Homo sapiens: one gene and its partners. The protein of the gene in region 1 interacts with the protein of each later gene in a biochemical or structural test. Each region holds a gene or a part of one and is shown in the gene's direction. Other genes may lie near its edges. The genes, in order: KHDRBS1, RIPK1, FRK, PACSIN1, PSTPIP1, SKAP2 and ITSN1.

Evidence for each region.
Region 2: the proteins of KHDRBS1 (region 1) and RIPK1 form a complex in vitro, tested with the Homo sapiens proteins (one study listed by BioGRID).
Region 3: the proteins of KHDRBS1 (region 1) and FRK interact in a test that uses a peptide from one of them, tested with the Homo sapiens proteins (one study listed by BioGRID).
Region 4: the proteins of KHDRBS1 (region 1) and PACSIN1 interact in a test that uses a peptide from one of them, tested with the Homo sapiens proteins (one study listed by BioGRID).
Region 5: the proteins of KHDRBS1 (region 1) and PSTPIP1 interact in a test that uses a peptide from one of them, tested with the Homo sapiens proteins (one study listed by BioGRID).
Region 6: the proteins of KHDRBS1 (region 1) and SKAP2 interact in a test that uses a peptide from one of them, tested with the Homo sapiens proteins (one study listed by BioGRID).
Region 7: the proteins of KHDRBS1 (region 1) and ITSN1 interact in a test that uses a peptide from one of them, tested with the Homo sapiens proteins (one study listed by BioGRID).

What each region holds. Positions count from the first base shown.
Region 1 is NC_000001.11:32,041,123-32,044,377, forward strand, and holds the end of KHDRBS1 (KH domain-containing, RNA-binding, signal transduction-associated protein 1), read left to right. Parts: intron 1-1,404; coding exon 1,405-1,502; 3' UTR 1,503-2,755; downstream 2,756-3,255. UniProt on the Homo sapiens protein: Recruited and tyrosine phosphorylated by several receptor systems, for example the T-cell, leptin and insulin receptors. Once phosphorylated, functions as an adapter protein in signal transduction cascades by binding to SH2 and SH3 domain-containing proteins.
Region 2 is NC_000006.12:3,109,994-3,113,493, forward strand, and holds part of RIPK1 (receptor-interacting serine/threonine-protein kinase 1), read left to right. Parts: intron 1-809; coding exon 810-962; intron 963-3,059; coding exon 3,060-3,346; 3' UTR 3,347-3,500. UniProt on the Homo sapiens protein: Serine-threonine kinase which is a key regulator of TNF-mediated apoptosis, necroptosis and inflammatory pathways.
Region 3 is NC_000006.12:115,970,392-115,973,891, reverse strand, and holds part of FRK (tyrosine-protein kinase FRK), read left to right. Parts: intron 1-3,500. UniProt on the Homo sapiens protein: Non-receptor tyrosine-protein kinase that negatively regulates cell proliferation.
Region 4 is NC_000006.12:34,528,576-34,532,075, forward strand, and holds part of PACSIN1 (protein kinase C and casein kinase substrate in neurons protein 1), read left to right. Parts: intron 1-66; coding exon 67-302; intron 303-821; coding exon 822-977; intron 978-1,090; coding exon 1,091-1,266; intron 1,267-1,667; coding exon 1,668-1,788; intron 1,789-1,884; coding exon 1,885-2,012; intron 2,013-3,024; coding exon 3,025-3,212; intron 3,213-3,500. UniProt on the Homo sapiens protein: Plays a role in the reorganization of the microtubule cytoskeleton via its interaction with MAPT; this decreases microtubule stability and inhibits MAPT-induced microtubule polymerization.
Region 5 is NC_000015.10:77,035,551-77,037,975, forward strand, and holds the end of PSTPIP1 (proline-serine-threonine phosphatase-interacting protein 1), read left to right. Parts: coding exon 1-13; intron 14-251; coding exon 252-385; intron 386-1,494; coding exon 1,495-1,626; 3' UTR 1,627-1,925; downstream 1,926-2,425. UniProt on the Homo sapiens protein: Involved in regulation of the actin cytoskeleton. May regulate WAS actin-bundling activity. Bridges the interaction between ABL1 and PTPN18 leading to ABL1 dephosphorylation.
Region 6 is NC_000007.14:26,735,591-26,739,090, reverse strand, and holds part of SKAP2 (src kinase-associated phosphoprotein 2), read left to right. Parts: intron 1-212; coding exon 213-296; intron 297-3,500. UniProt on the Homo sapiens protein: May be involved in B-cell and macrophage adhesion processes. In B-cells, may act by coupling the B-cell receptor (BCR) to integrin activation. May play a role in src signaling pathway.
Region 7 is NC_000021.9:33,771,501-33,775,000, forward strand, and holds part of ITSN1 (intersectin-1), read left to right. Parts: intron 1-560; coding exon 561-823; intron 824-3,228; coding exon 3,229-3,378; intron 3,379-3,467; coding exon 3,468-3,500. UniProt on the Homo sapiens protein: Adapter protein that provides a link between the endocytic membrane traffic and the actin assembly machinery. Acts as a guanine nucleotide exchange factor (GEF) for CDC42, and thereby stimulates actin nucleation mediated by WASL and the ARP2/3 complex.

The sequences.
Region 1 (3,255 bases):
AGTTAATCCGTTCTGATCTCTGCTTTGATTAACAGAATTAGAGAAATAAACTGTCCAGGATGATCTGTATACGTCAGGAAAAAAAGAAAAAGAAACTGTCTTGTTGATACCCAGAAGCCACTTGGAAAGTGATGGACATGTGTGTTATACTAGGGGTATAATTAGGGTTCTGTGTGACTTTAGATCTGTATAGGAGTTTGAGGCCTATAGAGATGGAGGCAGATACTTGTGAATACAGGCAGCTGGAAAAATACTTCAGGGATGAACTAGCGTGTGTAAGGTGTGGGAAGAATAAATTTAACGCAATTTATTTTCATAAGAGGTCACCTCTAGAATTATGTGATCATATTCCTCAGGCTTTTCCCTGTCACAAAGGAGAACCATTTGAGGATGTGAACCACATTGTCTGGCTTCTGGCTTCTCTCACCTGTTGACTTAAGAAAGGAGATAAGGAATTATCCTTTTTTTTTTTTTTTTTTTTTTTTGAGATGGAGTCTGGCTCTGTTGTCCAGGCTGGAGTGGAGTGGCACAATCTCAGCTCACTGCAACCTCTGCCTCCCAGGTTCAAGCACTTCTCCTGCCTCAGCCTCCTGAGTAGCTGGGATTACAGGCATGCGCCACCACGCCTGGCTAATTTTTGTATTTTTAGTAGAGATGGGGTTTCACCCTGTTGGTCAGGCTGGTCTCGAACTCCTGACCTTGTGATCTGCCTGCCTTGGCCTCCCAAAGTGCTGGGATTACGGGCGTGAGCCACCGCATGCAGCCTTGGAATTATCTTAAACAGTGCTGTCAGTGCAACATTTGATTGCACATCCCTCTACCAGAGAGAGCAGTATCAGCTCTGCTGGTGGAGGGCCCCATGGAAAGTGGCCCTTGCTTGGTTTTCCCAGGGAGCTAGAGGACACTTCTCCGTAAGGAAACGTGACTTGCTGTTGCATGGAAGTGGGGCTGGCTGCCTGCTTCCAATCTGAAAGACTTCCAGAAGTCTTCCCACCTTACCTGAGGGTGCCTGCCAAATTGTTTTGGGAACAGGAAAGGCCATTGCAGACTCACTAAGATTAATGAGTTCCTCACTATCTCAAGCAAGGTGTTGGGTATCTCCAGGTTTGGGGACTGGCGTACAGATCACATTTGTCTATGAAGAACCTCGTTGTGGGAGATTACTCCAGAGTCAATGGCAGCCTTTTTAGATTTGTTCCCTTCTGTCCTTCCACTCAAAACTGAAAAATTGCCCAGGCTGCCCAAGAGGGCCAAGCCAAGTAGAGAGCAAGGAACACCAGGGGAAGTGTCAAGACATTAGAAGAAACTCAGTGTTTTTGGTGATCTTTACTATGTGACCTATCCCTGCTTATCCCTAAGTGCTGTCGCCACATGGTTTATAAACTGTCTTTGTTTTCCCCACAGGCCAGGACGACTGGAATGGGACCAGGCCGTCGCTGAAGGCCCCTCCTGCTAGGCCAGTGAAGGGAGCATACAGAGAGCACCCATATGGACGTTATTAAAAACAAACATGAGGGGAAAATATCAGTTATGAGCAAAGTTGTTACTGATTTCTTGTATCTCCCAGGATTCCTGTTGCTTTACCCACAACAGACAAGTAATTGTCTAAGTGTTTTTCTTCGTGGTCCCCTTCTTCTCCCCACCTTATTCCATTCTTAACTCTGCATTCTGGCTTCTGTATGTAGTATTTTAAAATGAGTTAAAATAGATTTAGGAATATTGAATTAATTTTTTAAGTGTGTAGATGCTTTTTTCTTTGTTGTTTAAATATAAACAGAAGTGTACCTTTTATAATAAAAAAAAGAAGTTGAGTAAAAAAAAAAAACACACAAACCTGTTAGTTTCAAAAATGACATTGCTTGCTTAAAGGTTCTGAAGTAAAGGCTTGTTAAGTTTCTCTTAGTTTTGATTTGAGGCATCCCGTAAAGTTGTAGTTGCAGAATCCCAAACTAGGCTACATTTCAAAATTCAGGGCTGTTTAAGATTTAAAATCACAAACATTAACGGCAGTAGGCACCACCATGTAAAAGTGAGCTCAGACGTCTCTAAAAAATGTTTCCTTTATAAAAGCACATGGCGGTTGAATCTTAAGGTTAAATTTTAATATGAAAGATCCTCATGAATTAAATAGTTGATGCAATTTTTAACGTTAATTGATATAAAAAAAAAAACAACAAAATTAGGCTTGTAAAACTGACTTTTTCATTACGTGGGTTTTGAAATCTAGCCCCAGACATACTGTGTTGAGAGATACTTAGAGGGAGGGAGTAGGTTTTGAAGAGGTTGATGGTGGTGGGGAGGGAAGGCCTCCTGAATTGAGTTTGATGCAGAGCTTTTTAGCCATGAAGAATCTTTCAGTCATAGTACTAATAATTAAATTTTCAGTATTTAAAAAGACAAAGTATTTTGTCCATTTGAGATTCTGCACTCCATGAAAAGTTCACTTGGACGCTGGGGCCAAAAGCTGTTGATTTTCTTAAGTTGACGGTTGTCAATATATCGAACTGTTCCCAAGTTAGTCAAGTATGTCTCAACACTAGCATGATATAAAAAGGGACACTGCAGCTGAATGAAAAAGGAATCAAAATCCACTTTGTACATAAGTTAAAGTCCTAATTGGATTTGTACCGTCCTCCCATTTTGTTCTCGGAAGATTAAATGCTACATGTGTAAGTCTGCCTAAATAGGTAGCTTAAACTTATGTCAAAATGTCTGCAGCAGTTTGTCAATAAAGTTTAGTCCTTTTTTAATCAAAGTAAATGTGATGAATTGTCATTTTTTTGGGTGGACCATAAAATAGTTTTCTCTTTCAAATAAACTTAAATTAACTCTAAAGTTAATGGGCTTGTTAAAAGTTGGAAACATTCTTAAAAGTGGTGGGGGGGATTTTATTTTAAGTTTACCAAAAAAAAGTTGATGGAGTTGTTAAGTTTTAGTTTAAAAATAACCAAAGCTTTTTCACCCCCTGGAAGTTGTTGGAAGCTGTTGTATCCAATCCTATCAAAAATTCTAATTTATGGAGAGTTTTCAACTCAACTGAGCTGAAACTTGGATTGGTTTCCATAGATAGGTCTCAGTATTTAAAAGTGCAAGCCAGCCTGGTTTGCACCTTCTGTAGAACCCCTAGGTGGCTCTAAAGTGTGACACCAAATAATTTCTGTGAGCTCAGAAGGGGACAGCATCTGCCTTTAGGCATGACAGTTCAGCCAACTCTGGGTGCCCTTGAGGGTTTCTCTTTCAATCCCAGAAATGCTG
Region 2 (3,500 bases), on another chromosome or scaffold:
TGTAGCTAGACCACAGTTGGGTTATCCACTCATCTGCTCATGGGTGCCTGGCTTACTTCCACCTTTTAGCTATTGTGAATAATGCTGCAGTGAACACGTGGGTAGAAATATTTCTTCAACACCCTGTTTTAGTTCTTTTGGGTATATACTCAGAAACGGAATTGCTGGATCATATGGTAATTCTATCTTTAATTTTTTTGAAGAATCACGATTTTTTTTTTTTTTTTTTTTTGAGACAGACTCTCACTCTATCACCAGGCTGGAGTGCAGTGGCACGATCTTGGCTCACTCTGCAAGCTCCGCCTCCTGGGTTCAAGTGATTCTCCTGCCTCAGCCTCCTGAGTAGCTGGGATTACAGGCACCCACCACCACGCCTGGCTAATTTTTGTATTTTTAGTAGAGAAGGGGTTTCACCATGTTGGCCAGGCTGGTCTTGAACTCCTGACCTCAGGTGATCACCTGCATCAGCCTCCCAAAGTGCTGGGATTACAGGTGTGAGCCACCGCACCTGGCCCACTATACTCTTTATAGGAGCAGCTGCACCATTTCACATTCCCACCAGCAGTGCACAAGGGCTTCATTTTTTCCACATCTTTGTCAATATGTGTTATTTCTTTTTTTTTTTTTAATCATAGGCATCCTAATGGGTATGAGGTGGTTTAGCCAGATTTGAAAGAAGAAAAGTTTAAAGGGTGGCATAGGATAATTAACTTAATGTTTGGCATAAAGCCCTGCTTTTTTGCCATGCTGTATTTTTTTCTCTTGCTTTTGATCTAGAATTACTTACCTGTGTGTTTCTCTCTATGCAGATGAATCTATAAAATATACCATATACAATAGTACTGGCATTCAGATTGGAGCCTACAATTATATGGAGATTGGTGGGACGAGTTCATCACTACTAGACAGCACAAATACGAACTTCAAAGAAGAGCCAGCTGCTAAGTACCAAGCTATCTTTGGTAAGATACCCTGGAAGGACTCAACGCCTAGCAACCTTGAACTTTCTTACTTGTGAGAAGGACATAGTGGAATCTTAAAATTTCTCTGATAATTCTTCTTGAAAGTTTTCTTATGTTACTTCTGCAAAATATCTTTGTAATTTCCATATAATTCCTTTGTCATTTATTTATTTTTAATATGGAGATAATCACAGTATTTAATTTATGGATTTGTTGTGAAAATTAAATGAGTTGATATGTATAAAAAGCTTAGAACACTGCCTGGCACATAGTAAGTTCTATAAAAAGTGTTAAACTTTCATCATCATCATCATCAGTATTACTTCTCAGACCCAGAAGAAATAGCTGTGTCAGGCCCTCATCGAAGGAGATCCTGTAAAAGATAGAAGACTGTGCCCTCCACAGCACTTCTGTAATAAAATCAAGAGGGCTATCTCTTATAGGGTTCTATGGTGCAGCCCATAATGCTAATCCCAAAGTACAGTCTGGAAAAAGTCATGAGGCCAAAACGACTTGATTAAGAACTCAGCTTTCTAATTAACCATGGGATTGGCGCTTTTTTTTTTTTTTTCTGTAAAGGAACCAATAGTAAATGTTAGGCCCTGCTGGCTTTGAGGTCTCTTGGAACTACTCACCTCTCTTATTGTAGTGCAAAAGCAACCACAGACAATATGTACATGAATGAGCACGGCTGTGTTCCAATAAAAGTGGATTTACAAATGCTGGCAGGAGTCAGATTTGGCCCACAGGCCATAGTTGGCCAACCCCTGGTCTAACCCATTTGAAGGACAGCTTTTAAAATACCTAGAACAGAACTTGCGAATGGTCAGGGGCACCTGTGAGAATCTAATGAAACCCAGGATCTACCCCCTACAGAAATATTGACAAAATTTGGAAAATATCTTGGGAAGTTCTTGGACTGCTGACAATCTATAAGATATGGATAGAGAGAGAGCCACATCACAGAGGGCTGAGGAAAGAAGAGAGGTGGGAAGGAAGAATGAAATGTTTTCTTCCTTATATTCTGTTTAATGAGGTAGTGTGGGGATTAAGGAATTTTTTTTGTTGTGGTTGTTGTACATTTTCATTTGTTTCCTTTTATTATTTTTATGAAGGGCGAAGGGAAGGAACCAGTAGAAGGAGAGAGGTTATGGCTATTGGAGAAGAGGCAATGTCGGTCGGCAGTGGGGTGGAGTAAAGGAGGGGTTAGGGTCCAAAAACAGACCTTGAAGAGTATAGTTACCTCGTCGCTTGAAAGACAAGGAAGGCTTTGTAACTGAATGGGTTCACGCCTGCTGGACAATTCCTTGATTAAGTAAGAGGAAAGTGAACTGTTGGGCCGGGGTGGTGGTCAGGAGTTGAGCGGCTTTAACTCTGGCCAGATGTAAGCGGAGAATGTCTAAAAGGAACAAAAATGGTGGTTTTCCCTTTACACCCAGGAAGGTCTAATACCAACAGGATCACTGGCTAAGATTGACTAGAACACCCAACCTCGTAGCCACACAGGGGTTTTGTTCACAGAGCCATCAGCTGTGGCTCAGGGATGTGTCTACTAGGAGGAAGGAATGCCTTATTCTTTTTTGTTTTGTTTTTGAGACAACATCCTGCTCTGTGGCCCAGGCTGAAGTACAGGGGCACAGTCATGGCTCACTGCAGCCTCGAACTCCTGAGTTCAAGTGATCCTCCTGTCTCAGCCTCCTCAGTAACTGGGACTACAGGCATGTGCCACCATACCCAGCTAATTAAAAAAAATTTTTTTTTTGGTAGAGACAGGTTCTTGCTGTGTTGCCCAGGACTGGTCTAGAACTCCCGGGTTCAAGTGATCCTCCTGCCTTGGCCTCCCAAAGTGTTGGGATTATAGGCATGAGCCACCACGCCAGGCCGGGAATGCCCTATTCTAATTCACATAAAGACTCCATGTGGGCTAGCAGGCATGTGAAATGTCTGCCAGTGCATCAACAGCTATATAACTAAGAAGTTATCTTTTTCACTGTCTTCTGGTACTCTTCATTTCACTTGGGTTTTTTAGCAATTCAGGAAGCTGGAATGTTTGAATGGGTTTTAGCTTGATACCTTCTTCTTTTTCCCATTTGGCAGATAATACCACTAGTCTGACGGATAAACACCTGGACCCAATCAGGGAAAATCTGGGAAAGCACTGGAAAAACTGTGCCCGTAAACTGGGCTTCACACAGTCTCAGATTGATGAAATTGACCATGACTATGAGCGAGATGGACTGAAAGAAAAGGTTTACCAGATGCTCCAAAAGTGGGTGATGAGGGAAGGCATAAAGGGAGCCACGGTGGGGAAGCTGGCCCAGGCGCTCCACCAGTGTTCCAGGATCGACCTTCTGAGCAGCTTGATTTACGTCAGCCAGAACTAACCCTGGATGGGCTACGGCAGCTGAAGTGGACGCCTCACTTAGTGGATAACCCCAGAAAGTTGGCTGCCTCAGAGCATTCAGAATTCTGTCCTCACTGATAGGGGTTCTGTGTCTGCAGAAATTTTGTTTCCTGTACTTCATAGCTGGAGAATGG
Region 3 (3,500 bases), on another chromosome or scaffold:
TTGGCTTTTTTTTTTTTTTCTGAGACTGTGTCTCGCTCTGTTGCCCAGGCTGAATTGCAGTGGCACAATCTTGGCTCACTGCAACCTCTGCCTCCCGGGTTCAAGCAATTCTCCTGCCTCAGCCTCCTGAGTAGCTGGGATTACAGGCACATGCCAACACACCCGGCTAATTTTTTCTATTTTTAGTAGAGATGGGGTTTTGCCATATTGGCCAGGCTGGTCTTGAACTCCTGTCCTCAAGTGATCTGCCCACCTTGGCCTCCCAAAGTGCTGGGATTACAGGCATGAGCCACCATGCCCAGCCCTTTGTTGGCTTTTTTTAAAAATTTTTAAACATTATACTTTAAGTTCTGGGATACATGTGTAGCATGTGCAGATTTGTTACATAAGTATACGCGTGCCATGGTGGTTTGCTGCACCCATCAACCATCATCTACATTCGGTATTTCTCCTAATGCTATCCCACCCTTAATCCCACATCCCCCAACAGGCCCCAGTGTGTGATGCTCCCCTCCCTGTGTCCATGTGTTCTCATTGTTCAACTCCCATTTATGAGTGAGAACATGCGGTGTTTGGTTTTCTGTTCTTGTGTTATTTTGCTGAGAATGATGGTTTCCAGCTTCAGGAATATATTATGAGCTAAGCTCTATATCCTGATAGAAGTCCTCTATTTGATGATTATTATATAGGGCAATTAACACTGGCCTAAGAGTCATAGCCAGTAGGAATGGTAGCTTGACAAATCAGAGTGCAAGGATGTGTTCCAGATACACAAAAAAGTTTAAGAAAATGATATTGCTCTTGAAGGAACTAAATGGACTCTTGCCTTTTGTATTTTAATGTAAAGGAAAACATTAAAATTAATGAATGATATCACTGCTGAAAGTAACACATTTTCCTGAACACAGATGACATAATATTATTGTCGTGAACTGGAGGTGTGTCTTCTTAGACATTTAGATCTGCTGTGTGAAATCTGCTGGTTATAGAGCGTCTTAGAGTCACAAGGCCCCAAGTTGAATCCTGGCAGTGCCATCTACTGACTTTTATGAGTAGTAAAATGGACCTAATAACTACCTTATATGACTGTTAAAAGATTACAACAAAATAATGTAAAATCATGCTTAGCATGGTGTTTGGGTCAATACATGTGAATATAACAATGTTAAAATGGAGTTTTTGATTGAGGTTATTAAGACACAATAGAAGTAGAAGTTCAAAGTCAGATCTCCATACTCACAGTTGACAAAGGAATTGGTCAAAGATAGGTATGGCTGTTCTTGGATCTCTCAGCTTGTTAATAATTTAGAAAGGATACAAGGAGTGGAATGGAGGAAGAATTTGCTGATGGCATTTTGCTTTTGAAGAAAGCTGTTGGCACACTATGGAACCCCCTTTATTCCTGGGCTAATGAATGGGACCCCAAACCTAGTGAGAGGGTGCTTCAGGAAGGCCACTCTGAGAGCTAACTCTCCACCCTCTGCAGTTGGGAGGATAGAACACAGGTGCCTGACTCAGGTTGAGAAGGTGAAAGCATCCTGTGGAAGTAGGATAGAGGTAACTTAGGGCACCAGCTTCTCTCTCCTCCTAGTAATTGTCAGGGCAAGGGATGTGTAAATATTATCTCAGGACCATAAGTGGGTCTCCTAATGAGCAAAAGTGCCATGGCACTGTAGATGGACAGTCTGGAGGAGTTTTGGGTTTTGCCCAGGAAAGCTTCTGCTGGAGGATAAGAGGAGACCTATAAGGGAGAATGTGGTGGGAGAACTGCCCAGGAAACAGAAGCTGAGAGGCAATTGGGTGCAGGCATCCTAGAAATGTCTGCATCTTAGCAGCTGCAGTGAGGGTTCCTTTAGAGACAGGGAAGCCCCAAAGGGCCTGCATGAGTGTCCCAGAGAGGAGTCAGCTTCAGTTTCTGCCAGCAGGCTCGGAGTGGGAAGTTGACTGAGTGTGGCCTTCTCCTTCTTTACTCCCTCTTCTCTCTGCTCTTAGTCTGGATGCTCAGAGCCCAGCTGGGAAGGAAAAGTGGAGGAGCAGCTATAGTAGAGAAACAGAGAGGAAGGCACCCATACCATGTTTCCACTGCTGCCTTTTGCCTGAAGCGGGCCAGACCGAGCTGGGGAAGGAGAGAAGATTCGACATCTGATCACGTAGCAGTAGAGTGTTTTGGTTATCATCTGGGACTGGGCATCTAGGCTTGAATTGAGACACTGTTTGTGATTTTAAGTGGAAGTAAGACTGTCTAATACCTAAAAGTGGGCAGAAAAACTTTGCTGGAGCTTTCATCTAGGGACAGGGGAGTGTTATTCTCACAGACTACAAATTAAAGACCACTGGGAAGAACATGAAAGGTGTAGGCTTTAATTATTAGTTGTGCTTTTCTGTGTATTGTTTGCATTATTGTGGTTGATGCTGTGTTAGAAAGGTTACCTTCAAATTCAGTGTTGTACACCTAAAGTCTTGATTTTTGTTTGATATTTCCTTGCATTTTTCTGGCTTATAGCAAATACTCCTATAGTGCAAGTCAACTCAGTTATTTAGGAGGGCATTTTGTAGCCAGGTTTCTCACAGTGCTTACTAGAAAACTTATTTGCTTAAAGTTAATATTCTACGTGTATGTTACTGAGAATTTTTATACCCAGGGTGAAAATTAGGTAACATTTACTTTAATAACCTTCCATACTGAAATAATACAGCATGAACCATAATATAGCAGTTTGGAGACTCGATTCCCCATTTGTTCATAAAGAGAAGCAAAACACTGACATTTTAAAAGTATTCTTTTAAATTGAAGTGTGATACACATAATAAAAGTACACAATTCATAAAAATTTAGTTTGGTGAGTACAAAGTGAATTCATCCAGGTAACCAGCACCAAGTTAAGAAACAGAATAAGGTTAACGTCCCAGTCACTGACCCCTCATATCAATAGTTTTGCTTGTTTTTGATATTTATTTATTTACTTATTTTAGAGACAGTCTTGTTCTGTTGCCCAGGCTGGACTTGAGTATAGTGGCACAATCGATCATAACTCTCTGCAGCCTTGACCTTCTGGGCTGAAGTGATCCTCCTGCCTCAGCTTCCCAAGTAGCTGTGACTACAGGTGTGTGCCACCAATCCTGGCTAATTTAAAAACAATTATTATTATTATTTTTTGTTGAGACAGGGTCTGCCACCATTGCGTAGACTGGCTTGCAGACCTAGCCTCAAGCAATTCTTCCATCTCAACCTCCCCAGATGCTGTGACTAAAGGCGTGAGCCACCACGCCCAGCTTAGCCTTGCTTTTTAATAATGAGACTATATATTTGAGTTTGCGAGATTCATTCACTTTGTTATGTGTAGCTGCAGTTTTTGTTTATTTACAAATTTGCATTCCACTAGATGACAATTTTTTAGCTAATTCAATTGTTTTTTAGTTGATAAACATTTGGATAGTTCTATTTATGTGTTGATGAACATTTGGATTGTTTCCAGGTTTGAACCCTTACAAATCAGGCA
Region 4 (3,500 bases), on another chromosome or scaffold:
GAGATGTGAGGGGGGGCCTCTGGGCAGGGGCAATGAGGTTCTTGTGACCTATTGCCATTCCCTCAGGCCCACAGTATGGCAGCCTGGAGCGGGCCTGGGGTGCCATAATGACAGAGGCAGACAAGGTGAGCGAGCTGCACCAGGAGGTGAAGAACAATCTGCTGAATGAGGACCTGGAGAAGGTGAAGAACTGGCAGAAGGACGCCTATCACAAGCAGATCATGGGTGGCTTCAAGGAGACGAAGGAGGCTGAAGATGGCTTCCGCAAGGCCCAGAAGCCTTGGGCCAAGAAGATGAAGGAGGTGCTCAGTGGGTGCTGCCACGGGCGGGGTGGGGTGGGCCCGTCTGATCAGAGGGTGCTGATCCCAGGGAGGGCATCTATGGATGGGTGGGCTGGGCACTGCCCTCTGGGATTGTGCCCACAGGGGAGCAGCACTGCCTTCCAGGAAAAAATATTCACAGATGGGTAGGCAGTGCCCATTGGGTAAGGAGACCCATGGGCAAAAAGGGGCACTGTCCCCAGGAAAGATACCAGCAGGGGCAGAAGAGCACATTGGCCCCTGGGTCCCCAGATGGGGCGGGCACTGCACTGCCTGACAGGAGGGTATCTGCAGGGGAGCAGGCAGTGCCAAGCAGAGACGCAGCCACAAATGGAGGAGCGCTGCTCCCGAACACCTGGAGCCAGGGCCTGCATCCCTTCTGGCTCTTAAGAGTGTGGGCTCACAGGTCCCAGGGAGTGGGCAGGGGAGGAGTTAATGGGTGACCATGTTTGCTGCTGGTCACAAATGAAAACCCTACTCCCTATTCCCCCCTCCCCACAGCTGGAGGCAGCCAAGAAGGCCTACCATTTGGCTTGCAAAGAGGAAAAGCTGGCCATGACACGGGAGATGAACAGCAAGACGGAGCAATCGGTCACACCTGAGCAGCAAAAGAAGCTGCAGGACAAAGTGGACAAGTGCAAGCAGGATGTGCAGAAGGTGCTGGCGGGCAGGGATGGCAGTAGGGGGTCTGGGGGCCCCTTGCAGAGGGTGGTGGCTGGGAGCTGCAGGCCTGGCTAGGTGTCACCCTCTCTCCACTCTGGTGCCCACAGACACAGGAGAAGTATGAGAAAGTGCTGGAAGATGTGGGCAAGACCACACCCCAGTACATGGAGAACATGGAGCAGGTGTTTGAGCAATGCCAGCAATTTGAGGAAAAGCGGCTGGTCTTCCTCAAGGAGGTGCTGCTGGACATCAAACGGCACCTCAACCTGGCTGAGAACAGCAGGTACCTGGGCATGGCAGGCACCGAGGGCACAGGCACAGCCAGCAGATGGTGTGACTGGCATGCAGGGCATCCCAGCCCTCCATCACAGTGACGGGAAGGGGAGGCAGAGCTGCAGGGGTCAAGAAGGATGAGGCTTCAAACACAGGGGCTGTTGAGTGCAAGCTGACGCACACTGGGTACTCTAGAAACACATGCTGGATGATGGGTGAATGGCTAAGGTGGGAGGGAAAAGGAGTCCACCGAGCATGCCCGGAGCTTATTCTTGCAAAGCCCACATGATTCCTGGCTGGGCAGCATGCCCAGCACCCTGCTTCCCTGAGTGGACTCTGGCCTCTCACCAAGGTTGAGGAGGGGCCATGTTGAATCTGTGCCCTCCACCTCCCCCATCTCCCTGAGCACAGCTACATCCATGTGTACCGTGAGCTGGAGCAGGCCATCCGGGGGGCTGATGCCCAGGAAGACCTCAGATGGTTCCGCAGCACCAGTGGCCCCGGCATGCCCATGAACTGGCCCCAGTTTGAGGTGAGGATATGTGGGGATGGGAAGGGGAGCCTGAAGAGGCTGAAAGGTGCCTCAGGGCATAGTCCCCCAGCCTGACTGCTCCACTGGCCCCACCAGGAGTGGAACCCAGACCTTCCTCACACCACCACCAAGAAGGAGAAACAGCCTAAGAAGGCAGAGGGAGTGGCGCTGACCAATGCCACTGGGGCGGTAGAGTCCACATCCCAGGCTGGGGACCGCGGCAGGTGAGTGCCTCCTGTGGAGCTTCCTGGGGCCAAGAGGGACCCACACTCTGGGGCAGCTGAGTTTTGCTTCAGAAGACAAGAAATGGTCTAGATCATAGCAACTATGTCTCCTCTCTAAAAGATAGTGGTAGTTCATCACTCTAAAGCAGCCGTCCCCAATCTTTTTGGGACCAGGGACCAGTTTTGTGGAAGACAATTTTTCCACGGATGGGAGCGGGGTGGTTTTCGGATGAAACTGTTCCACCTCAGATCATCAGGCGTTAGATTCTCCTAAGGAACGTGCAACCTGGATCCCTCGCATGCGCAGTTCACAATAGGGGGGTTGCGCTCCTATGAGAATCTAACGCCGCGGCTGATCTAACAGGAGGTGCAGCTCAGGCGATAATGCTCCCTCGCCTGTCACTCACCTCCTGCTGTGCTGCCTGGTTCCTAACAGGCCACGGACTGTCTGCAGCCCCAGGGTTGGGGACCCCGGTCCAGATCACAGGAACCAAGCCTCCTCTCTAAAAGATAGTGGTAGCATATCCTTCTAGAGCACCTACTGTGTGTGGCACGGTTCTATGCACTTTCCATATGTTAACTCATTCATGCTCAAGTGCGTAAATATTACCATTTTACAGATGGAGAAACTGAAACCCAGACAGGTTAAGTGACTTGCCCAAGATCACATTGCTAGTTAGTAAACCTCAGAGCCAGATATGTTGCCCAGGAGGTCTGACTCCAGGATCCTTGCTCTTAAACATTAGGTGGTACTCCTCCTCCCGGATGAAGGCTCAGATGTGCCCTGGGGTCCCCTTCAATGCCCTCTCCCTCGAGGGCTGAATAATAACGCAAATGGTCCTGCATTTAAACATCGGTTTAAAGAGCTCATGAGGGTCACCCCTCCTATGTGGCCAATCCTTGCTCTAGCCTTGGTAGAATTCGGGATCAGGGCTCTGATTAGGAGGAGCGGTTAGCCCTCGGGATGCGGTACGGGGAGACATTGAAGCTGGCTCCTTCCTCCGCGTCTCAGTGTTAGCAGCTACGACAGAGGCCAGCCCTACGCCACCGAGTGGTCAGACGACGAGAGTGGGAACCCCTTTGGGGGCAGTGAGACCAACGGGGGCGCCAACCCCTTTGAGGACGACTCCAAGGGAGTGCGCGTGCGGGCACTCTACGACTATGACGGCCAGGAGCAGGACGAGCTCAGCTTTAAGGCCGGTAGGACGGCTGGGCGGGGCAGTGCCTGAGAGAGGCTTGGGCCTGGATTGGGTGTGTGGTGGTGCAGGGGCGGTGCCTGAGAGAGAAGCTTGGGTCTGGATTGGGTGTGTGGTGGTGCAGGGGCGGTGCCTGAGAGAGAAGCTTGGGTCTGGATTGGGTGTGTGGTGGGGCAGGGGTGGTGCCTGAAAGAGAGGCTTGGGCCTGCATTGGGTGTGTGGTGGGGTAGAGGCAGGATCTGAAGACGGGTTGCGAGGATTTGCAGGGAACTAAATGGGGCGTGGCCTGGGT
Region 5 (2,425 bases), on another chromosome or scaffold:
GCAGCTTCTGCTGGTAAAGGGGGTCAGGAGGGGACCCCCAAACACACTGATCCTGGGGGGGAGGAGAGGTCTCCCACATGGCACAGATGGGGCCACTGAGGCCCTCAAGAGGAAGTGTGTGTCCCCCAACAGCAAGTGTGGACAGCAGAAGGAAGAGGCAGGGCCCAGCATGGAGAAACCCCATTCTAGTAGGACTTCCAGGGGCCAGTGTCCCCAGAAGGGGAGGGGTCTATGTCTCACCCTGCTCTTAGCGTCCACAGAGACCCTGACCCCCACCCCCGAGCGGAATGAGGGTGTCTACACAGCCATCGCAGTGCAGGAGATACAGGGAAACCCGGCCTCACCAGCCCAGGAGTACCGGGCGCTCTACGATTATACAGCGCAGGTGAGGCCTCTATACCCCAAACCCACCTGTGCCACCTCCCCTGCACCTGAGAGCTCCCTCTCCCATCCAGTGCCTTGCGTCCTCATCTCTCCTCATGGTTTCACTCATCTTCGAGCATCCTCTCCTCCTCAGGAGGGCACGTGTGCCCGAGTGTGTCCACACTAGCAAGGGTACCTGGGAGTGTGCTTGGATGTGAGCTCTGAGAACAGCACCCAGGGCTTGCGGGGCCTCAGTGTGCATGTACTGACTGGAAGCTGGTGTGCAGCAGGCCTGTGTCTGCCCGGGCCTGTACACAGCACACACGTGGAGCACATGTACCTATGCCGTCCACACAGGCTGGGCGCTGAGTGGTGCACACGTGCGGGGAGCTGGCAGAGCCTGGAGCTGCCTGCAGGTCATAGCTTGAGGGCCAGGCTCTGTGCCTTTGGGTCAGGGCCCTGTCCTTCGTGGCCATGGGTGTGGAAAACTGTGGCCAGAATGAGTCTTGCTATCGTGCCAGGATTGATTTTCTGATGTCCATAGGGTGAGGATGAACCAAGGCAGCCACAGGGCAGCTATGAGAGTCCTTTCTGCTCCCTGCTTGAGGGGAAGAATGCATAGCCAGACCTCACATCCACCTGGACTGAGGCCAAGCACCCCCACATAGCCAGGCAGGCTGGGTGTGGACTCCACTGATGAGGCCAGGGCTCGGGGAGGCAGGGAAGCCAGGCCAGGAGAGTGATGGGGTACTTGGATGGCAGTGGCTAGCTGGGGCTGGGGACCGCAAAGGGGAGGCTTGTGGTAAGCTTAGGCATGAGTGTGCCCTGGGCTTGGGGTATGATGAGCACCCGTGACCCCTGACATGCTCCAGTCACTGCGTCTCCAGAATGGGAGAGGGGAGGTGAGGCTGGGAAGAAACCCAGGTTGGGGGAGAACTATGATGACAAACTGAGGGGGATGGGAGGCCCGGTCCGTTGGGTTACCCCCATCCTGTGTCCCCAAGGGGCTGCCCCTGCCCACCCTGGGAGACATGCCGCATTTACTGCTGGGTGGGGGAACGCCAGGCCCCTCCCTGCAGGCCCTTCCCTGCAGGCCCTTCCAACGTCATGCGCTTTCAATCTCTTGGCCAGAACCCAGATGAGCTGGACCTGTCCGCGGGAGACATCCTGGAGGTGATCCTGGAAGGGGAGGATGGCTGGTGGACTGTGGAGAGGAACGGGCAGCGTGGCTTCGTCCCTGGTTCCTACCTGGAGAAGCTTTGAGGAAGGGCCAGGAGCCCCTTCGGACCTGCCCTGCCAGTGGAGCCAGCAGTGCCCCCAGCACTGTCCCCACCTTGCTAGGGCCCAGAACCAAGCGTCCCCCAGCCCCGAGAGGGAGCCTGTCGTCTCCCAGGGAATAAAGGAGTGCGTTCTGTTCTCCTTGGTGTGCTGGGGTCCCGTTCTCTTTTTCTCCTGCTCCAGTGTCCGAGTGCTCAGTTCAGAGGAGGCAAAGGAACAAGGGAAGGAGCCTGGATGTGGAGCTCCCCAACTCAGCCGAGGCTTCAGCTATAGTTGGAGAAGAGGCCTGGCCCCAGTTGCTAGGAGCTCCCAGACTGCCAAGGAGACACATTCACACCTGGACAGAGGACACAGGGGTGCAGGAGGATGTGGCAGGGGCAAGAAGGGGCTCAGCAGGGCTGCAATGGGGAGAGCAGGCTTCTTGGGGGCGGAGGGTTGAGCAGGTCCATGGCTGGGCAGCAGTGGCCAGGCCAGGGCAAGTGCGTGGGCAAAGGTGAGGTTGGGGGTACACCCAGGAATATTCGGAGGACTCAGTTTGGAAACAGGAAGCTGGTGATGGATCTGTTGGAGAGGCCATGGTGGGAGCCCAGGAAGACAGGCTTGTGGCTTGTGGGTGCAAGTGGGGCCTGGGGAAGCCACTGCTGCCCATGACACTCCCCTCAACATGGCAACCCCGGCCGAGCAGGGGTCCACAGCCCAGGCACGTTGGCCCCGGGCACAGAGGGAGCTGTTCTTGAAGGCCTTCAGCCCCTTCTCTTTTTAGTCCCAGGAACATAACTTTCAC
Region 6 (3,500 bases), on another chromosome or scaffold:
GTTGATCCCATAAGTATGGCAGCCCCATAGCTACTTTACTTTATTCCCTTTAGCTGTGTTGGTTTGTTGTTGTTTGGTTTTTTGTCTCTTGGAAAAGAAGATACAAATTAGTCACACAATGTTAGAGCTCAGAGGAATCTTAGAAATCATATTAATTAACTTTTTCTTTTACAGTAAGGAAATGGCCTTACATTTTCCCCTCTTTATTGCAGATCACAGCTTTCTGGGATTTGAATGGCAGAAACGGTGGTGTGCTCTCAGTAAAACGGTATTCTATTATTATGGAAGTGATAAAGGTAATGTTGGTGTTCAATTATATCAACTACTATTGCAAAAGAATTTTTGGCCATCCCTTCCCCCTCTTTTGAGTACAGAGTAAACTGAAGACAAACTAATAATAACTGAGAATTATAACAATTATAATCTGACTAATTTATGATTCATTTCATTATTTGACAAATGCTCCAAATACCAGAATACCCTCAGAGCTAAAACAATTGTGTTGTATTGAATTAGAAAAGAGAGTAAAATAACTTTAATCTGTGTGGCCTTTCACCTTAGGGAATATTTATTATCCAGCCTACTGTTGTAGAATTTCTGGAAAAGTTAAGAACATAGGGTTGTGAGAGTTTCAATGGCAGAAAATAGATTATTTTTCTTAAATATTTTAAAATAAAATTAGATAAAATTAAATACGAACAGCACCTTTCTGAGCTCCCTTTACAGATTTAAGGAATAACAGCAAACGTGTACATAGAATTTACTATATACTGGGCACCGTTCTAAGCACTTTGTCTAAGTACGTTAGCTATGTTAACTTGTTTAGCTCACAACAACTCTGTAAGTACTATTATTAGCACCATTAATTTGACTTTTAGGAAAACTGAGAACAGAGAGGTTAAGTGACTTGTTCAAGGTCACAGAGTTGGAAAATGGCAGATCTAGGAATTTGTTTTTCCTTTGTTTTTAGAAACAGGGTCTTGTCTCGGTGCCTAGGCTGGAGAGCTGTGACTGTTCACAGGTGTAGTCATCACACCCTGCAGCCTCAAACTCCTGGGCTCAAGTGATCTTCCTGTCTCAGTCTCCCAGGTAGCTGGGATTACAGGTGCACACCGCTGTACCCAGCTCAAATTTGGGATTTTAACCTAGAGAATATGGTTAGAGTCCATGTTCTCAACCACTATTGTCACTACATTAATTTAGAAATAATAGGATACATTTTATAACTTCATTGTTAATTAATAAATCTCTCAGTTGTAGTTCACATAATTTTAAGATTGTTATTTGAACAAATAAAGCCACCAAATAATGAAATTTAAAGATTGTAAGCTTTCTGAGTTTTGTTTTATTCTGGGGAAAACAGGCTAGGAGTTGAATATTATAAAGTAAAGGTTGTATCAAAATAGATAATGTTCATTTCCAGAAAGGACACTTTAAGAAGAAAAAGGCAAAAGTATCACTGAATGTAAGCTTTCCTATGGAATTGTTATCAGTGTTGTTTGGAAATTTATGTTTTATTTGACATTATTTATAGTTTTTAGAGTTTTTTCCCCCATTCTAAAAACATACAGGTAAGATTGTCATATTTCAGATAAGTCTGAAATACTTACATAATGCTGGAAGTTGTTCTTACCTTTTGGCTAATGAGATTAACAAATTAATTAATTTAGTAGCTAGTTTGCATTCCATCACTAATTTACAGTATGTTCAGATGTAGTAATGGCATCAGTGAAGTGTAAACTGTAAACAGCTATAAACAAGCATCTTTCTTCTGCTAAGGGTCAGTAGTGAAGTAGGTCAGAAAATTTAGAGTCCAAGTTCAGTTACGATTATCACAGATCATAGAAATATAGTTTTGTATGATATTGTGAATTTAGATCGAGATACTACCTTCCACAAAATATCCTCTTTTTCACCAGACCAGGGGAGGGAGGTTTCAGATCCTTGTGACTTTGATTCAATTAGGCTTCTCATTTCTAATTTCTTTAAGAATCAATGAATACTAATGTCAGTGTTTCCTCCATTTCTAGTCCTGACTGGCATATAACAATGGTTAGGTCAAAGATTAGCAAGAGTTTCCCCAAAACCCAAAGCGTGTTAATATTTACTTCAAACACTAATATATTCAATGAAAACATTTTAGTTAGAGTTATTTAGATATTAGTTACATTCCTTTTTTTTTTTTTCTTTTTAGAGATGCGGGGGCCTCACTCTGTCACCCAAGCTGGAGTGCAGTGGTGCCATCATAGCTTACTGCAATCTTGAATTCCTGAGTTCATTTTTATTCTTATTTGATGAGACCTAATGGTAGTAACATTGTTTGTAATTTGCATTTTAACTACTTTGTGATCCATTTAGCCCTTTCTGTCATTTCTGTTACTGGAAGGGGGTCTTGATCCAGACCCCAGGAGAGGGTTCTTGGATCTCATGCAAGAAAGAATTTGAGGCCAATCCGTAGAGGGAAGTGAAAGCAAGTTTATTAAGAAAGTAAAGAAACAAAAGAATCACTACTCCATAGGCAAAGCAGAGCATAGGCTGCTCAGCTGCTTACACTTATTGTTACTTCTTGATTATATGCTAAACAGGCAGTGGATTATTCATGAGTTTTCCTGAACTGGGGTTGGCAATTCTCAGAACTGAGGGTTTCTCCCCCTTTTTAAGCCATATAGGGTAACTTCCTGATGTTGCCATGGCATTTGTAAACTATCATGGCACTGGTAGGAGTGTCTTTTAGCATGCTAATGCGTTATAATTAGCATATAATGAGCAGTGAGGAAAACCAAAGGTCATTTTCATCACCATCTTGATTTTGGTGGGTTTTGGCCAGTTGCTTTCCTGCATCCTTTTATCAGCAAGGTCTTTGTGATCTGTACCTTGTGCCAACCTCCTATCTCATCATGTGACTAAGAATGCCTAACCTCCTGGGAATGCAGCCCCCATAGGTCAAAGCCTTATTTTACTCAGCCCCTATTCAAGACGGAGTTGCTCTGGTTTAAAAGCCTCTGACACTTCCACTTTAAAAAAATTACCATTTTAGCATTCCTTTTTCATGTTGATGTCTGAAGATGTGGCTTGTGTTTCCTTAAATTTTTCCCTTTTACTTTGCAGCCTCCTGTTTCCAGTGAAATTTTAGATTTGTTTCTTGTGGTTCTTTTTTCTATTGGCGGTTTCATTCGAAATTTTTAGCCAGTTCCTCTCTTTTAAGGGACTCCAAAAAAAGATCTGTCTTTAGACAGTTTTTAATTACTTGTTTGGCATGATCCCGATTTCCTTCCTTTATATCTTTTTCTTACCAGGAAAATATGTCAAATAATTTTTTTCTTTTGTGAAATTAGATATGATTTTTTATAGCCTTGTTTACTGTATGTGTGAACCATTTACCTAATGGGAAGAACTCATATCTAGCTATATGAGAACTATAATCCTCCAACTAAGTAGGATTTAGATAAATGGATTATAGAGGCACAGAAGGAGTTGACACCACTTACTAGGTTAAACTG
Region 7 (3,500 bases), on another chromosome or scaffold:
GTAATCATTCTAAATTTATAATTGATGTGTTAAAGAAGGAAACTGAATAATGGGTTAGAAAAAATTGTTGACTGACTGTGATCTCCATAGGGATCAGGGCACAGCTTGTTCTTCAGTGTGAAAAGCCGAATGCTCACCTTTCACTCTGCTTTGAGAAATCTTGTTAGAATAGAGGACTCATCAGCACGGTTACAAGGCAAAGGGAAGGAGGGAGAGAGACAGAGACTCATGGTCCAGAAGAGAGGGGGTTAATTCCTAGGGCAAGCTCATGGGAAGAAGGGAAAGGATGGAGTAACAGGGAAGGAAAGGAGTCTGGATGGTGATGTAGAACTGCTAGATAAGGATCTTTTAGAAACAGTGTTTGGCGTGGAGGAGAAGATATAAACAGAGAGGTTAGGCAAAGGGGGTTTTCGTTGTGCTCATTAACAAGGACACAGAAGCTTAGGGAGTTCTGGGTTTGGGTTTGTACTACAAATTTCAAATACATTGGTGAGTTTTCCTTTGAAAAGAGTCCGTTGAAAATCTTGAGTTTTCATAGTTGCTGTGTTCCTTGTCTGAAGTAACGTTTGAAGATAAGAAGCGGGAGAACTTTGAACGTGGCAACCTGGAACTGGAGAAACGAAGGCAAGCTCTCCTGGAACAGCAGCGCAAGGAGCAGGAGCGCCTGGCCCAGCTGGAGCGGGCGGAGCAGGAGAGGAAGGAGCGTGAGCGCCAGGAGCAAGAGCGCAAAAGACAACTGGAACTGGAGAAGCAACTGGAAAAGCAGCGGGAGCTAGAACGGCAGAGAGAGGAGGAGAGGAGGAAAGAAATTGAGAGGCGAGAGGTAAGCAGGCGAGAGTGGAGCCACCCGGAGTTAGTGTGCGATCACCCCTTTTCAGAATTATCCAAGTGATCTATTCACGCCATCTTTGTCTTTTTACAATTCAGTAGTTTTAGTATATTCCCAAAGTTGTGCAACCATCGTCCCTAATTCCAGAACATTTTCATCACTCCAGCTCTTTACCCATTAAGCAGCTACTCCCCATTTCTTTCTCCCTCCAGCTCCTATCATTAATTTTACTTTCTATCTTTCTAGATTTACTTATTCAGGACATTTTTTATAAATGGAATCATCAATATATGGACTTTTGTTTCTGGCTTTCATTTAGCATAATGTTTTCAAGGTTCATCCACATTGTAAAATGAATCAGTCCTTTATTCCTGTTTATGGCTGAGTAATATTTCGTTATATGGGTATACCACATTTTTTAATTCATTCAGCAGTTGATGGTCATTGTGGCTATTATAAACAATGATGTTATGAACATTAATGTACAAGTTTTTGATGATACAATTTTGTAACAAACCACTGATACCAGTAAAGTGTTTTTCCAGACTGTTTTCTCTGTATACACCTATATAAAAATATAAAGGTTTATATGGCGGAGAGTGTAAGGGCTGTATAATTTTTTAAAAACCACTGTAATAGTATCATACCAATTACATTGTTCTGCAATCTTCTTTTTTTTTTTTTTTTTTGTTTGAGACAGAGTCTCGCTCTGTCACTTCCAGGCTGGAATGCAGTGGCATGATCTCAGCTCACTGCAACCTCTGCCTCCTGGGTTCAAGCGATTCTCCTGCCTCAGTCTCCTGAGTAGCTGGGATTACAGGTGCCCGCCACCACGCCCAGCTAATATTTTGTATTTTTAGTAGAGATGAGGTTTCACCATGTTGGTCAGGCTGATCTCGAGCTCCTGACCTCGGGTGATCCACCCGCCTCAGCCTCCCAAAGTGCTGGGATTACAGGCATGAGCCACCGCGCCTGGCCCATGCAACCTTCTTTTTAAACTCTTTTAAAAATATGTCTGGGACATCCTCCCTATATTCTATGGAAGGCTTCGTAAATTTAGCGCCATACCTGGAAAGGGGCTAAGCAAATCTTGTCTCTCTTTCCAATTTTAGTACATTACTGCAGAAGCAACACATGGTTCTTTCATGTGAATGAAAGATAAAAATGAGGAATTTTTCGATGTAAAAAAATAGCCTGAGTGCTGTGCCTCAAGCCTGTAATCCCAGCACTTTGGGAGGCTAAGGAGGGATGATCACTTGAGGCCAGTAGTTGGAGGCCACTGCATTCCAGCCTAGGTGACAGAGCAAGAACCTGTCTCAAAAAAAGAAAGAAACAAAACTTATAGCCATAACTCCTTTTTTTTTTTTTGAGACAGACTCTCGCTCTGTTGCCCAGGCTGGAGTGCAGTGGCACGATCTCAGTTCACTGCAGCCTTCACCTCCTGGGTTCAAGTGATTCACCTGCCTCAGCCTCCGGAGTAGCTGGGATTACAGGCGTGAGCCACCATGCCTGGCTGATTTTTGTATTTTTAGTAGAGACAGGGTTTCGCCATGTTGCCCAGGCTGGTCTCGAACTCCTGACCTCAGGTGATCCGCCTGCCTCGGCCTACCAAAGTGCTAGGATTACAAGCGTGAGCCACTGCGCCCGGCCCCGTAACTCCTTTTTGTTCAGACAGACACTAACAAAATTTTAATTTTCAGAATGAACAAAGATAGGCAAACTTTTCTTCAACGTACCAAAAAAATGATATTCTAGAGTATTTATTCAGAATTATTTAATAGACATTTACCATGTATCAGGTGTAGTTGGATGACCCATGAGTCAGAGGCAATTCCCATAGACTGTCAGATGCTCTGATATGTACTCTATCTAGCAGTCGTCAGAGCCAGTCGTTGGAGGGAGCAAAAGCTTTTGTGGTAAAAAGGAAATGAATGATTAGGAAGTGGGGAGTCGCAGACTTTTAAAACGAGTTAAGTAATAATTTCTCTTTTGGTGGAGTAAAATCAACTCTTGTTTGTTTTTGTTCAGGGGTGTTTTAGTTTGATTTTACTACATAAATTTTCCTTCTTGGCGTGTCAGTAAATAAGAAGGAGCATTTTTAGTTAGCACATCAAGCATTCTTGAAGGCATAAAGAATGGAATTCTAATGGGGAAATAATCCTGTCATCTTACGTAAATATAGTATTATGTAAATATAATACCCAGTTCTGTGTATTCCCTTTATTCCCATAGAAGGAATACTGTATTTTTATGTAATTTTTTGTTTTCTAATGTGATTTCTTGTAATGTTTAATATTTCATCCCTAAAAGGAAAGACTTCCTAGATGCCATTTTTGTGAAAAGACATTGTGTAGTGTAAGAACTGAAAAATTAGTAATTTGTCTCTGTAAATGTCACAGGCTGCAAAACGGGAACTTGAAAGGCAACGACAACTTGAGTGGGAACGGAATCGAAGGCAAGAACTACTAAATCAAAGAAACAAAGAACAAGAGGACATAGTTGTACTGAAAGCAAAGAAAAAGACTTTGGAATTTGAATTAGAAGCTCTAGTGAGTGAAGTTTGGTTATACTTTGAAAATATACTAAGATGGAACCATTAAAAACAGTAATAATTTTTATTATCTTTCATTTGTTCAAGAATGATAAAAAGCATCAACTAGAAGGGAAACTT